Homo sapiens: one gene and its partner. The protein of the gene in region 1 purifies or fractionates together with the protein of each later gene. This does not show direct contact. Each region holds a gene or a part of one and is shown on either strand. Other genes may lie near its edges.

Region 1 (7,023 bases):
GCTGGGCATGGTGGCATGTGCCTGTAATCCCAGCTACTCGAGAGGCTGAGGCTGGAGAATCATTTGAACCCAAGAGGTGGAGGATGCAGTGAGCTGAGATTGCGCCACTGCACTCCAGCCTTGGCAACACAGTGAGACACTGTCTCAAAAATAAAAATAAATAAATAAATAAATAAAATAAAATCACCCTCTTTGACAGCTTTCCAAATTCTCACTTTATTTTATTTCAATGGATACCATTGTTGAAAATCAAAAGGCCAGGGTTCCAGAACTGATTTCCCTTTGCCAAACCTTAACTACATCAACTACCACAACAATTACTGAGCATTAATTATGTGCCAGATACTGAGTTTATTTAAATCCTTGACAAATTAACAAGGTAGAAACTATTACTATCCAATGTGACAGAAAACAGAGGCAGAGAGAGGTTAAATCACTAGTCCAAGGTCATAGTTAGTGCATAGCAAAACAGAGACCCTCATCTGTGCCCTTAAGCACCATATTATACTGCTAGTCCTCCAAGCAAATTGGCTTCACAATTAGCCAAATGGTCTGCCAAGTGTCTACTCTATCACTTTCTTCTTTTTTTTTTTTTTTTGAGACGGTGTCTCACTCTGTCACCCAGGCTGGAGTGCAGTGGCGCGATCTCGGCTCACTGCAACCTCCACCTCCCAGGTTCAAGCGATTCTCCTGCCTCAGCCTCCCAAGTAGCTGGGACCACAGGCACCTGCCACCAAGCCCAGCTAATTTTTTCTTTTGTATTTTTAGTAGAGACGGGCTTTCAGTATGTTGGCCAGGCTGGTCTGGAACTCCTGACCTTTTGATCCGCCCTCCTCGTCCTCCCAAAGTGTTGGGATTATAGGCATGAGCCACCATGCCCGGCCGTGTCTACTTTATTTCGGACAGTGTTCTGTACCCTGAGTATTCAACAATAAACAAACTCTTCCCTTCAAAGCGCTTATGTTCCACAGAGGGAGGGCATGGAAGAGGAGGGAAGACAGGAAATAAATACCCAAACAAATAAATCAAATTAAAAGATAACATACTGTCTAAATGTGCTGAAGGAATTTAAATACTTGACATATAAGAAAATTTGGTCCTAGTTCCTGAACTCTGACCAACTATTGTACAATAGTTTTTTTTTTTAATTTTAATTTTTTTATCGGGCAATACTCAACAAATGTAGTAGGTGGGCAACACCCCAAATATATTGTTGATAGAGGGAACTGAGCAAGAGTTGGCTGACATGTGAAAAATGTCCAGGTCAAAAAATGCTTTTTTGAGAGAGAGTCTCACTCATTGCTCAGGCTGTGGCATGATCTCGGCACATTGCAACCTCTGCCTCCAGGGTTCAAGCGATCCTCCTGCCTCGCCCTCCTCAGCAGCTGGGACTACAGGCATGCACCACCATGCCTGGCTAATTTTTGTATTTTTAGTAGTGACAGGGTTTCACCATGTTGGCCAGGCTGCTCTGGAACTCCTGACCTCAGGTGATCTGTACACCTCAGCCTCCCAAAGTGCTGGGATTACAGGTGTGAGCCACCGCACCGGCCCAAAATGCATATTTAAACTATGTACAAGTTTTTTTGCCTATCAAATTAGCAATGTTTAAAACTGATAAATTCAGTGCTGGTCAGTAATGAAAGAAACACTGTTAAACACAGTTGGAGAGAGGATAAACCGGAAAAATCTTTCTGGAGAGCAATTTGGTAGTATGTATCAAAACCTTGAAAAGGTTCACAGTATTTTACCTAGCCTTTTTATTTCTTGGCAGGAACCCTAAGAAAATAATTTGAAATACAGTCTATGACTTCTGAATGAAGATGTTCACTGCTTTGTTAATTATAATGGTAAAAACCTGAAAAGAACTAAATGTTCATAAATGGAGAAGTTATGATATTATGGAGTATTTTATATATAATGGAGTATGATACAGCCATTAAAAATGATGTTGGCCAGGTGCAGTGGCTCATGTCTGTAATCCCAACACTTCAGGAGGCCGAGGCAGGAAAATTGCTTGAGCCCAGGAGTTTGAGACCACCTTGGGCAACATGGCAAAACTCTGTCTCTACAAAAAATACAAAAAAATTAGCTAGGCATGGTGGCAAGCGCCTGTAGTCCCAGCTACCTGGGAGGCTGAGGTAGGAGGTTCACCTGAGCCTGGGTGGTCGAGGCTGCAGTGAGCTGTGATCATACCACTGCATCCCAGCCTGGGCAACAGAGTGAGACCCTGCCTCGAAAAAAAAAAAAGTTACCAACAATAAAAAAACCCAAAAAAAACAAACAAATGATATTATATTAACAAAGCATTGTTATTAATAACAAATCAATTATTTTTGCTAAAGCCAAAAAAAAAAAACCCACCTATTTCTCCTGGGATTATGAAATTAAAAGGAAAAAGTTATGAATGTGTAAATATAGTATGATCTCAGGCTTGTAAAAACAGAGAAAAGACAGGAAAAAGACAGAAAGCTGGGCCGGTCACATTGGCTGATGCCTGTAATCCCAGCATTTTGGGAGGCTGAGGTGGGCGGATCACCTGAGATCAAGAATTTGAGACCAGCCTGGCTAACATGGAGAAACCCCATCTCTGCTAAAAATACAAAATTAGCCAGGCATGGTGGCGCATGCCTGTAATCCCAGCTACTTGGGAGGCTGAGGCAGGAGAATCACTTGAACCCGGGAGGCAGAGGTTGTGGTGAGCCGAGATCACACCACTGCACTCCAGCCTGTGCAACAAGAGTGAAACTCCGTCACAAAAAAAAAAAAAAAGACAGAAAATTGGTAATAGCCTTAATATAATAATGGATTGTGGATGACTTTTTCCACTTATTTGTACTTTTCAAATATTTTACAATGAACATAAATAATATTTGTAAAGAGAAAAACAAAAACAAACAAACAAAAGGCAAAAAGACAAGTCCACTTCCCCACAGGTGGTTTAGCAACCTCCTCTCAGTAGCGACGTTCCCAAACTGCTTCCTCTATAATAAAACTGCCAGTGATGGAAACAGCAAGATATGAAAAACAAAAACAAACAAACAAAACGAACAAACAAAATGTCTTGCCAGTGAGACAAGTTAGGAACTTTGTACTTTTGGCTAAAAGAAACATACTAGGAGGATCCAGGTCAGTGTTTCTTAACTTTGGCACTACTGACATTTTAGACCAGACAATTCTTCCCTGTGATGGCTGTCTTAGGCACGACAGGATATATATACAGCATATCTGGCCTCTACCCCCTAGAAGCCAGTAGCCCACGCTACCCCCAGTTGTGATAACCCAAAATGTTTCCAGATATGGCCAAATGTCCCCCGGGGGCACAATCGCCTTTACTGGAGGACTACTAATCTAGGTGACTTGGGTTCTAAGCCTGGCTCAGTCACTGACTCTCTTGTGACTTTATTTTTAAAAAAATTTTTTTTTCTTTTTCTTTTTTTTTTGAGACAGAGTCTCACTCTGTCGCCCAGGCTGGAGTGCAGTGGCATGATCCCAGCTCACTGCAATCTCCGCCTCCCGGGTTCAAGCGATTCTCCTGCCTCAGCCTCTTGAGTAGCTGGGATTATAGGCGCCCACCACTACACCCAGCTAATTTTTCTATTTTTAATAGAGATGGGGGTTTTACCATGCTGGCCAGGCCAATCTCAAACTCCTGACCTCAAGTGATCTGCCTTCTTCAGCCTCCCAAAGTACTGGGATTACAGGCATGGGCCACCATGCCCGGCCTCTTGTGACTTTAGGAAAGTCACTTTGCCCTTGATAAACCTGAGTAGCCCACTTGATATAGCTGTTCTCTGAAGTCCCTTCCAGCTTTGACATTTAACAAGTTAAAAATTGTATGTGTTACCAACAATTGTTTTTATTCTGTTGTTTTCAGATTATGCTACAAGTTAAAATTCCTATTTTCTATGTCAGCAAAGTTAAATGGTAATTAGTATAATCCAAATGTACTGGAATTATAATTGGATTTATATATATGTGTGTGTGTGTGCATGAAAGTTTATTTGTATGTACGTAAATAAAATAACCTTTGGCTACTTACCAGGATTCAGGACTTGTAGACAATTTCGATTTCCTGATTGGTTGGCACCTCCAAATACCCAGATACGGTCAGGTGTGCAGGAGGGAATGAAGCTAGCATGTTCATACCGGGGCAAGAGGCCCTTGCAGGTATCTAAGTCCCACTGGTGTTTTCCTGGAAAACATTTCACCCAGTTCCTAGATTGGGGCTGCCAATTATTATATTGGTTGGCACACTTGAGGAGGGTCATGAGAAGAGGGCCATAAACATAAATGAAAACCACTGAATCACTTAAAGGGCATGTTGTCAACCTCCAGAAAATTCTATAATAGATACTTAGGGGGCTGTCTGCCTAGTCCATAGACCCCGTTCTATGGAAACTGTCCCCACTTTGTCAACCACAAGGATAGATCCCAGATGACATGTTTGTACTATGCTTTGACTTTGTAGCTTTAGCTGATTGGGTTGAAGGTAGCCAATGAAACCAGAATGAGCCAACCAGATCAAGTGCTTCCACTTTCTCATGATCCTGGGCTCTACTTCCTGTCCTTGAATTCTTTGAAACACGCCTGTATTGGCCAGGTGCAGTGGCTCACGCCTGTAATCCGAGCACTTTGGGAGGCCCAGGTGGGCGGATCACGAGGTCAGGAGATCGAATCCATCCTGGCCAACATGGTGAAACCTCATCTCTACTAAAATACAAAAAATTAGCCAAGCATAGTGGCACGTGCCTGTAGTCCCAGCTACTCGGGAGGCTGAGGTAGGGGACTCGCTTGAACCCAGGGTTATTTTACTTGGTAAACCAAGCGGAGGTTGCAGCAAGCCAAGATTGTGCCACTGTACTCCAGTCTGGGAACACAGCAACACTCTGTCTCAAAAAAAAAAAAAAGAAAGAAAGAAAGAAACACGCCTGTATCTGACTAAATAAATTCCCCCTTTTTCCTCTGGTTTAAGTGAGATTCTGTTACTTGCAAATAAATGATGGCTGGCTAAGACAAGTTCACAGAATAGTAATACCTAACCTTGGTCAGGCGCTGTGGCTCATGCCTGTAATCCCAGCACTTTGGGAGGCCGAGGTGGGCGGATCATGAGGTCAGGAGATCAAGACCATCCTGGCTAACATGGTGAAACCCTGTCTCTACTAAAAATACAAAAAATTAGCTGGGCGCGATGGCAGGCGCCTGTAGTCCCAGCTGCTTGGGAGGCTGAGGCAGGAGAATGGCATTAACCCGGGAGGTGGAGCTTGCAGTGAGCTGAGATTGCGCTCCAGCCTGGGTGACACAGTAAGACTCCGTCTCAAAAAACAAACAAACAAACAAAAAACCCTAACCTTTATTATTAACAATTATTTTACTTGGTTAACCAATTACACAAGACCTTTACAGGCATTATCTTGTTAGATCTGAAGCAAGTTATTATCCCTACTTTATAGAGCACTGAGGTCCAGATGGTTGAGATGGTGTAGCCAGGGTCACAAAGCTATTAATAGGTTGCAATAAAGATGTAAGTTGAACTAATTTAATGTAATTGAGGGCTAGAAGTGATTTAATTTACCTTTGAATTTTTTTTTTTTTTGAGATGGAGTCTTGCTCTGTTGCCCAGGCTGGAGCGCACTGGCGCGATCTCGGCTCACTGCAACCTCTGCCTCCCAGGTTCAAGCAATTCTCCTGCCTCAGCCTCCCAAGTAGCTGGGATTAAAAGTGTGAGCTACTATGCCTGGCTAATTTTTGTATTTTTAGTAGAGATGGGGGTTTCACCATATTGGCCGGGCTGGCCTCAAACTCCTGACCTCAAGTGACCCACCCGCCTTGGCCTCCCAAGGTGCTGGGGGATTACACCTCGTCCAGCCTACCTTTGATTTTTTTAGTGCAGGGAGTAGAAATTCAAATGCCTAGGTGGGAGTAACAAAAACTGTGGCAAACTGGAGAATAAGAGCCCTCTTGATAGGTGGCAGCTCAGTTCCAAATAATTGTTGCCATGTAGACAGGGAGGCCTACTGACATTAGATTTTCCAACATTATCAAGAGAAGCCAAACCATTTAAATTTTTATATGTAGATTTCTGCATAATTGGTTGGTAAACAATTTAAGATTATGCTGGGCGTGGTGGCTCACGCATGTAATCCCAGCACTTGGGGAGGCCGAGGTGGGTGGATCACTTGAGGTTAGGAGTTCAAGACCCTCCTGGCCAACATGGTGAAAACCCATCTCTACTAAAAATACAAAAATTAGCGGGGCATGGTGGCACGTGCCTGTAGTTCCAGCTACTTGGGAGTATGAGGCAGGAGAATCACTTTCTTTTTTTTTTGAGATGGCGTCTCGCCCTATCACCCAGGCTGGAGTGCAGTGGCGCGATCTCGGCTCACTGCAAGCTCTGCCTCCCGGGTTCATGCCATTCTCCTGCCTCAGCCTCCCGAGTAGCTGGGACTACAGGCGCCCGCCACCACGCCTGGCTAATTTTTTTTTTTATTTTTAGTAGAGATGGGTTTTCACCGTGTTAGCCAGGATGGTCTCAATCTCCTGACCTCGTGATCCGCCCACCTCGGCCTCCCAAAGTGCTGGGATTACAGCATGGTGAGCCACCATGCCCGGCCCAGGAGAATCACTTTAACCCAGGAGGCAGAGGTTGCAGTGAGCCAAGATCGTGCCTCTGCACTCCAGCCTGGGTGACAGTTTGAGACTCCATTTCAAAAAAAAAAACAAAACTTAAGATTAAAACAATAGGGAAATGTTACATGGACCTAACAAAATACGTAAGTGGGTCACCATTGTTCAACTTCTGCCCTTGTGTAGAGCAAAGAATAATCGTTTCTTTTATTTTCTTTTTTTTTTTTTTTTGAGACGGAGTCTTGCTCTGTTGCCAGACTGGAGTGCAGTGGCATAATCTTGGCTCACTGCAACCTCTGCCTCCCAGATGCAAGCAATTCTCCTGCCTCAGCTGGGACTACGGGCACAAGCCATCATGCCCAGCTAATTTTTTTGTATTTTTAGTAGAGACAGGGT
Region 2 (7,247 bases), about 90 Mb from region 1:
TGAGGCTCTTACGTTGCAGCAGTGGATGGCCAGGAGCAAGAAAGGCAGTGGGCAGTCATCCCCCACCAGAGTTCGGAAAGCAGGCACATCCAGGCCAAAGTCCTGTGGGGACAGAAGGAGGGACCTCCAAGTCAGCTTTTCTTGGGTTCTCCTTCTGCTCCCCAGTCAGAACCTCAACCTCTAGGGAATCCTCCTTGGTTATGAGCCAGCTAGTCTGGAATTCTTTCTTTGCAAACCTAGAAACATTCACCTCAGTGCGTGGTAGGTAGTCAGGGTCTGCAGGTACTCGGGCGATGAGCTCACAGAGGACAATCCCGAAGGCAAAGACATCAGCCTGGGGGTCAGAGATAATAGTGTCGGGGAAGAATTAACAGTTTTCATTTCAGAATTTTGACAGAATATAGCAGAATTTGGTTGAGGGTGGGGGATCTTGACAGTTTTCATGTGTTAGAAGGGTGCCTGTGAGGGGCAAAGGGATCTTGGGGACTCCTGAAGATCTGGTAGGGTTGTTTTGGGGATGGATGGGGCTTTATGAGAATACCTCAAGGGTCTCGGAAGGCCTTGGGGATCTGAAGGGTTGATGTCTCACCTTCTCATCATACAGCTCACCCCGTAACACCTCTGGAGCCATCCAGTATGGGGAGCCCACCACGGCCAATGGCTCCTTCCTTGCCCCCTCCCTGCAGGGGCAGGGGCAGAGTGGTCAGAAGCATCCTATTCAGGCATCCCCCCCAGGCAAAAGGGGATGAGGTGAACTCCCTCCGTTCCCCAAGGGAAACATCCCTGGGGCTCTGGGGACATCAGATAGGGGCACTCTGGGAGATTTGGGGGGAACAGGGACATTCATCTCACCTATACACAGGAATCTTTTCGGCCAGCCCGAAGTCACCCACGACAGCGGTGAAGCCTCGATCTTCCCGTCGGACTAGACAGTTCTGACACACACACACATAGTATCCCCACGCACTCATCACCTTCTGCTGTCTGGCCTCCCAATGTATAACCCAAAGCCCTGTCACTCCAGCATAACTCCAACCCTCTCTGCTCTCCCAGTTTTTCAAGGCACTTCAATATTGCAACATCATCCAACACTCCAAACACAGGGTGCTACTCAGTCCCTCCGAGCACTCCCCTCACCCTGGTCCCCCAATATTCTCCAATGCCTTGCCACTCCAACATCCTAATATATCTGTTATCCATATTCCAACATCCACAGGCCAGTTACAACCTAATAGCCTCAAACCCTCTTTCATGTCTCCACCCACCCTGCTAGCCTACCTTGGATGTGAGGTCGCGGTGAAATACACCTTTGGAGTGCAGGTACCGCAGGCCTCGGGCAATGTCCAGGGCCAGGTGGAGCCTGACCGGCCAGGACAGGGGTTCAGGGGAGCTGAGCAGCTGTTCCAATGTCCCCCCATTCATATACTGGTGCATAGGAGGAGAATGGGAATAGATGTCAGACTTCAGTCTGTATTCTAGGTCCCCCACTTACACGCTAGGGGACACTCCCGAGGATCACAGAGGTCATAGGGGTAAGACTGTGCTGTAGGACCCCCCCCATCCATGTTCTAGGATTGCCCCGTTCAACTCAATAGCCATTAGCCATGTGCAACAATTTAAATAATTTAAAAAATTTTTTAATCAAGTTGACCCACAAAAAATAATCTAAACAATGAAAATAATTTAAATTTAACCACATGTGGCTAGTGGCTACTGTATTGGACAGCACAGATAGAGAACATTTCCGTCACTGAAGAAAATTCTATTGGACAGCACTGTTCTAGGGGATACAGAGAATAAGACCAGTTGAGGCCTTTTATATGTGGTTTGCCTAAAGGAAAGTTCAGGAAAGCCTCCCCTGAGAGGAGATCCTGTTGCCTCTCACTAGTCCTCCGTAGATCCACCAGGCCTGTTGACTCCCTTTATCCTTGGGGGTGAAGGGGGGTGGGGATCCCTCCTTCCTGGCCTATCCTCACCTCTGTAAGAGCGTGCAGCTGTCCCTGGTGCACACAGACTCCCATGAACCTGCAAGAGGATGGGGAAGATAGAAGGATAGGCTATTAAAGGCCTCAGCTCCTCCTCAGTTCCACTTTTCCCGCGGGATCTTTCCCTTTCTCTCCCGCCCAGCAAGCTGCCCAGAGACTGGGGCCGCTCACCTTAGGATGTTGGGGTGCCTGAGCCGGTTCATCAGCTGCACTTCCCGTAGTGTGTTGCCCCGGTTACTGGGGAGCTTGTTCATCTTCAGCACCATGACTTGCCCTGACTGTCGGTGCCGAACCTGGGGGCAGGAGCAGCCGGCGAGGGCCGGGCAGGTCGGGCGGGTCGCCGGAGTCTGGACCCTCTTCCCCGCACTCCCGGCCCCCTAGTTTCAGCCTCTGGTTGAAGGCTCGGTCCCGCCCCTCTGCCCTCTCGGCCGGTCCTACCTTGTAGACCTCAGAGAAGAAGCCGGCCCCGATCTTCTCCGCGCAGTGAAAATCGTCCACACGCGCCAGGCTAGACACGGCGCTGCGGAGAGCCCGGTAGGAGGAGGGGCGGCCCCGGCCCGGGCCTCCGCCCGTGCCCCCCGGCCCCGGGGGCCCCTCCCCCGGCACCTCTCCAGGCCCGGGCCCAGGGCCCCGCAGTGGGGGCCGTTCCCCGGCCATGGCCGGGCCCCCAGCCCGGGCCTGCCTCACATGGCAGGGTCCCCAGGGCCCGGGCAGGCCGCGCTTGCCATGGGCGCGGGCCCAGCCCGATCCCGGGCGCCCGGACTCCGGCTCCCGCCCTGAGAATGGAAGATCCGCCGAAGATCCTGGACCCGCCCCCGCCGCGCCGGCTGGCTGGGCCCGGGTGGACGCCGCGCCGCTCCGCTCCGCGCAGGGCCTGGGCTTGGGCCTGGACCGGGCGGTGGCGGTGACGGTGGCGGCAGCGCTCCGGGGCGCCGGCGGGCTGGCTTGCCGCGGGCGGAGGCGGGCGGGCGGGCGGGCGGCGGCTGCTCCGCTTAGCCGCCGGGGATCAGGCTCCGCGGCCTGCCGGGGGCGGGGCTGGGCCGGGCCTCCGCTTAACTCCTTCCAGCCCGGCCTCCCGGCAGCGGCCACGCCCCCTCAGGTGCGCACCCCCGCCTCCCCGCTTTCCGGCCGCGATGCCCTGGGCCGCCCGGGTCAAATAAGCTCCGGCCTGAGCTTGAATAACGGGAGGGAATTAAGGGCTGATGGTGCGCATGCGAAGCTTAGCTGCCCAGGGAGTCCCCTCTCCTCCCTGGGTTACTGTCCGTTGAGGGTCGGGCTCAGAAACCTGCCGGATTCCTGGGCTCCAGGGACCAACGGGGCAGAAAGGTAGGCCCCTCAGGCCCAGCCGCAATCAGAGGTAGCCTAGCAACCTGTCCACCTTCCTGGCCTGCGCCCCGGCCCAGCCTGCCCATTTCCCAGGTCTCTTCGACTCCGACACCTTGAACCTCTGGCCTCCCTAACACCTTCTACCTTCACGGGAGGTTGTGATACCCCGGGGCTATAGGAAGCCTTTGGCCGGCCCATACCCAGCTTAGCCCCGACTCCTCCTCACTTCATCCTGCCGCCTCCCAATAAAGAAGAGAGTCCAGGTCCTCCGCCCTGTGACCACCCAGCCGGGACCTCCCTCTTACTACTTTGCCCAAAAGACTCTAAGAGAGAAGCCTCCACCTGCAGGGAAGCCCGTCCTTCCGCAAGATCCCACCCCCCTCAAAGAACGCTGTCCCTCGGAGACCCCTCCCTTCCTCAGTGAGACACCTCCCTTTCGGGGGCACTTTTCCCCAGTGTGGCACTGCCACCGTCAGTGTGTCAGAACCCCTCAGTGCTGCACCCCCTTGCTCTGTGTTCCTCCCACGCAGTGAGACCCCACCTCCGAGGAAATCCACTAGTCATTGTGACCCCTCCTCTCAAGGTGACTCCTCCCCTCAGTGTGACCCAGCCCTCCTCAGTGTGAGGGTTCCGCCCTCCACGTAGGAACACGGTCTGCCCCCTAAGGCCGGAGGAGGGGCTGCAACTGGCCTCTTTAAGTCGGCGCGGTGCCTGGGTGCGCACGCAGTCTCAGGACTCCGTGCACTCGCCGTACCAGACGCTTCCGGTTCTGCCGCTGGTTCCTCCTCCGGCCTCGGCGAAATAGCCAATCATCGCTAGGGTTGGGTGGTGACACGCGATCCCGGCGGTCCACTCCGGGGCAAACGGTTTAAAAGGGCGTCGTTGAGCCGCCTGCCACCTAGCGGCGGAACGGTGGGCGGAGGGAGAGAAAGCTGCCGTCTCGAGTGCGGAGGCAGGCTGAGAGCTCCTCGAGGAAGCGAGGCTGAGTCCTGCAGGAATTCTCAAGTACTGTATTGATATTTCTGTAGTAAGCTTAAAAGAGAATTAATACAAGCACAGTCCGTATCGCGTGGGGTTACCGTCTTCCAATGGAGTCTGGTTACACGTTTATGAGACTTGGAGCCAAGAAATACTACTCGCTTGTCGAGGGCTACTGAGAAAAGAATAAAGACGGTCATAAATGATACATGATGCCTTAGAGTCAAGAGAAGGCCAGATGCTGTCTTGGTGCGCTGTACAAGGGAAGGTATTGCACAAGTTTGGAGCGAGAGGAATGGGAGACATTCGCAATCCTTCCACAGCCGGTGGAGGCAGGCCAACCTCACAGAATTGCACGGGGCACGTGCATCCTGTTCTTTTTTCTGGAGGCGTTTGGTCTTCAGCACACGCTCATTCATCACATTAATGTTAACATCTACAACTAATTTGTGAATTTGCTTTTTATTGTATGACATCTGTAAACACTAGGAATTTATGCCTCATTTTGTTTAATATCATAGATCTTTTAACCGACACTGGGTTCTGGCCCTTTATCACGTTTGAGAATTACTGTAGTAGTTGGTGATGGTAATGCCAAGCCAAAGAGCCAGGTGCCTATTTTTTGTAAGATGATTGCGGTGGTTGTATGGAGGCCGGGAGACTGATTAGGAAGGAGGCTGTGACTGTGGTTCAATCAGGAAAGGATGAGACCAGCCTGGCCAACGTAGTGAAACCCCGTCTCTACTAAAAATACAAAAAAATTAGCCTGATGTGGCGAGCGCCTGTAATTCCAGCTACTCTGGAATCTGAGGCAGGTGAATCGCTTGAACCCGGGAGGCGGAGGTTGCAGTGAGCCAAGATCGCGCCATTACACTCCTGTCTAGGCGACAAGAGCGGGACTCTGTCTCAAAAAAACCTTTTGTTGTTGTTTGTATGGTGGAAAATGTCTTAACACACACACACAGAATAGAAAAATGAATGTTTATTTACCTTGGATTAGTAAGACCATTTTGTTGGAAACCCATAGTGCAAAATTGGCTTTCCTTTGCCTCAGTTGTACTGTTGCCATATTTGACCTGGCCCAGGTGAAAGTACCTACTTTCATTTACCCTTCTATGTCAGTGATTCTCCAATGAGCAATTCATGGCCAATCTTGTTTCATCTATACCCGTGCCCTCTTCCCCACTCCATATTTGTGTATATTTCTGACATATCATTTCATCCTGTAAATGTTTCAGTACGTTATCTCTAAATGATAAGGATTCTTCTTTAAAACCAAATCACAGTATTGTCACACCAAAAAAAAACAATAGTTCCTTCATGTCATCAAGCATCCAGTTGTTTACATTTCCCTCACTGTCTTACGTTTGATTTTTAAAAATTGTTTATTTGAATCAAAATCTAAATTAGGTCTGTACTTTGCAGGTGATATGTCTGTCTGTCTGTCTCTCTTTTTGTGAGACAGGGTCTGGCTCTATCACCCAGGATGGAGTGCAGTGGGTTGATCTCGGCTCACAGCAACCTCCACCCCCGAGGCTCAAGCAATCCTGCCTCAGCCTTCTGAGTGGCTGGGACTACTGAGGTGTGGGTACCACCACACCTGTCTAATTTTTGTATTTTTGTAGAGATGGGGTTTGCCACGTTGCCCAGGCTGGTCTCAACTCCTGGGCTCAAGCATTCCATTCGCCTTGGCCTCCCAAAGTGCTGGGATTATAGGTGTGAGCCACCACACCCAGCCATATGTTTCTTAAGTCTTTGCAGATCTATGCTTATTCTCCATCTTTTTTCTTACTATTTTTTAAAACTGGTTCATTTGTCCTGTAGAGTTTCTTAGAGTCTTGATTTCTGTGGTAATTTAGCATGTTCCTCCATCCTCTGTATTTGATATAAATTGGTAACTTAATCAAATTTAGATTTCTTTTGGCAAAACTAATTTGTAGATGGTTTTAGCACTTCTATCAGGAGGTATACAGGAGGTATACAGTGGTGGTCTTTTTGTGATTTTAATAACTGATATTTGTTTCTCAACCGTGGCACTATTGACATTTTGGGCTGGAAAATTCTTTATTGTAGGGGCTGTCCTGTGTATTGTAGGATGCTTAGCAGCATCTCTGGCCTCTACCTAATGGATGCCAGTAGCACCTCCTCCTGACTGTAACAATAAAAAAATGTGTCTAGACATTGCCATTTGTCCTCTGGGGGACAAAATTGACCCTGAATAAGAACCACTGGTCTAGGTTCATTAATAGAGGAGTTAAAGCTGGGCATGGTGGCACGCGACTATAGTCCCAACTACATGGGAAGTTGAGCCGAGAGGGTTGCTTGAGCCCAGGAGTTCGAGTCCAGCCTGGGCATCATAGCAAGACCCTGTCTCAAAATAAATAAAAAGTTAGAAAATAATATTATCATTCCTTCTTTGAATGAATTCCTATAGAAGTATTAGGTAGAATAATTCTATAAGGAGAAACTTTTCCACATTAACTATTTGTTACACAGAGATACATTTCCTAGGAAAGGCAGAATAAATACTTGATTGTTTCTCACTTATTTTACCAGCTTTCAAAGTAATGAGTTGGTTCCCCAGCATCTTCCAAAGTTGACCGATGAGGTTTTTTTTAAAGTACCATTATGAACTCATAATTTAACACATATGTGATATACTCAATTATTGCTAGTTATCTTTTTTTTCTTTTTGAGACGGGTCTCACTCTTTTTCAGGCTGGAGTGCAGTGGCACAAAGCTCACTGCAACCTTGACCTCCCGGGCTCAAGTGATTCTCTCATCTCAGCCTCCCAAGTAACTGGGACTACAAGCACGTGCCATCACACCTGGCTAATTTTTAATTTTTTTGTAGAGACAGGGTCTCACCATGTTTTGCCCAGGCTGGTCTCAAACTCCTGGCCTCAAGTGATCCTCCTGCCTTGGCCTCCCAAAGTGCTGGGATTACAGACATGAGCC

Evidence for each region. Proteins that work in one complex are often made in the same cells at the same time.
Region 2: the proteins of RABEPK (region 1) and TESK1 purify together in Homo sapiens (affinity purification with mass spectrometry; 3 studies listed by BioGRID and IntAct, with this or other methods). This does not show direct contact.

The regions. Positions count from the first base shown.
Region 1 is NC_000009.12:125,210,542-125,217,564, reverse strand, and holds part of RABEPK (rab9 effector protein with kelch motifs), read right to left. Parts: intron 4,196-7,023; coding exon 4,043-4,195; intron 1-4,042. UniProt on the Homo sapiens protein: Rab9 effector required for endosome to trans-Golgi network (TGN) transport.
Region 2 is NC_000009.12:35,601,015-35,608,261, reverse strand, and holds the start of TESK1 (dual specificity testis-specific protein kinase 1), read right to left. Parts: upstream 3,001-7,247; 5' UTR 2,643-3,000; coding exon 2,424-2,642; intron 2,279-2,423; coding exon 2,157-2,278; intron 2,026-2,156; coding exon 1,977-2,025; intron 1,426-1,976; coding exon 1,279-1,425; intron 936-1,278; coding exon 853-935; intron 681-852; coding exon 590-680; intron 335-589; coding exon 251-334; intron 169-250; exon of another isoform or gene 103-168; coding exon 13-102; intron 1-12. UniProt on the Homo sapiens protein: Dual specificity protein kinase activity catalyzing autophosphorylation and phosphorylation of exogenous substrates on both serine/threonine and tyrosine residues.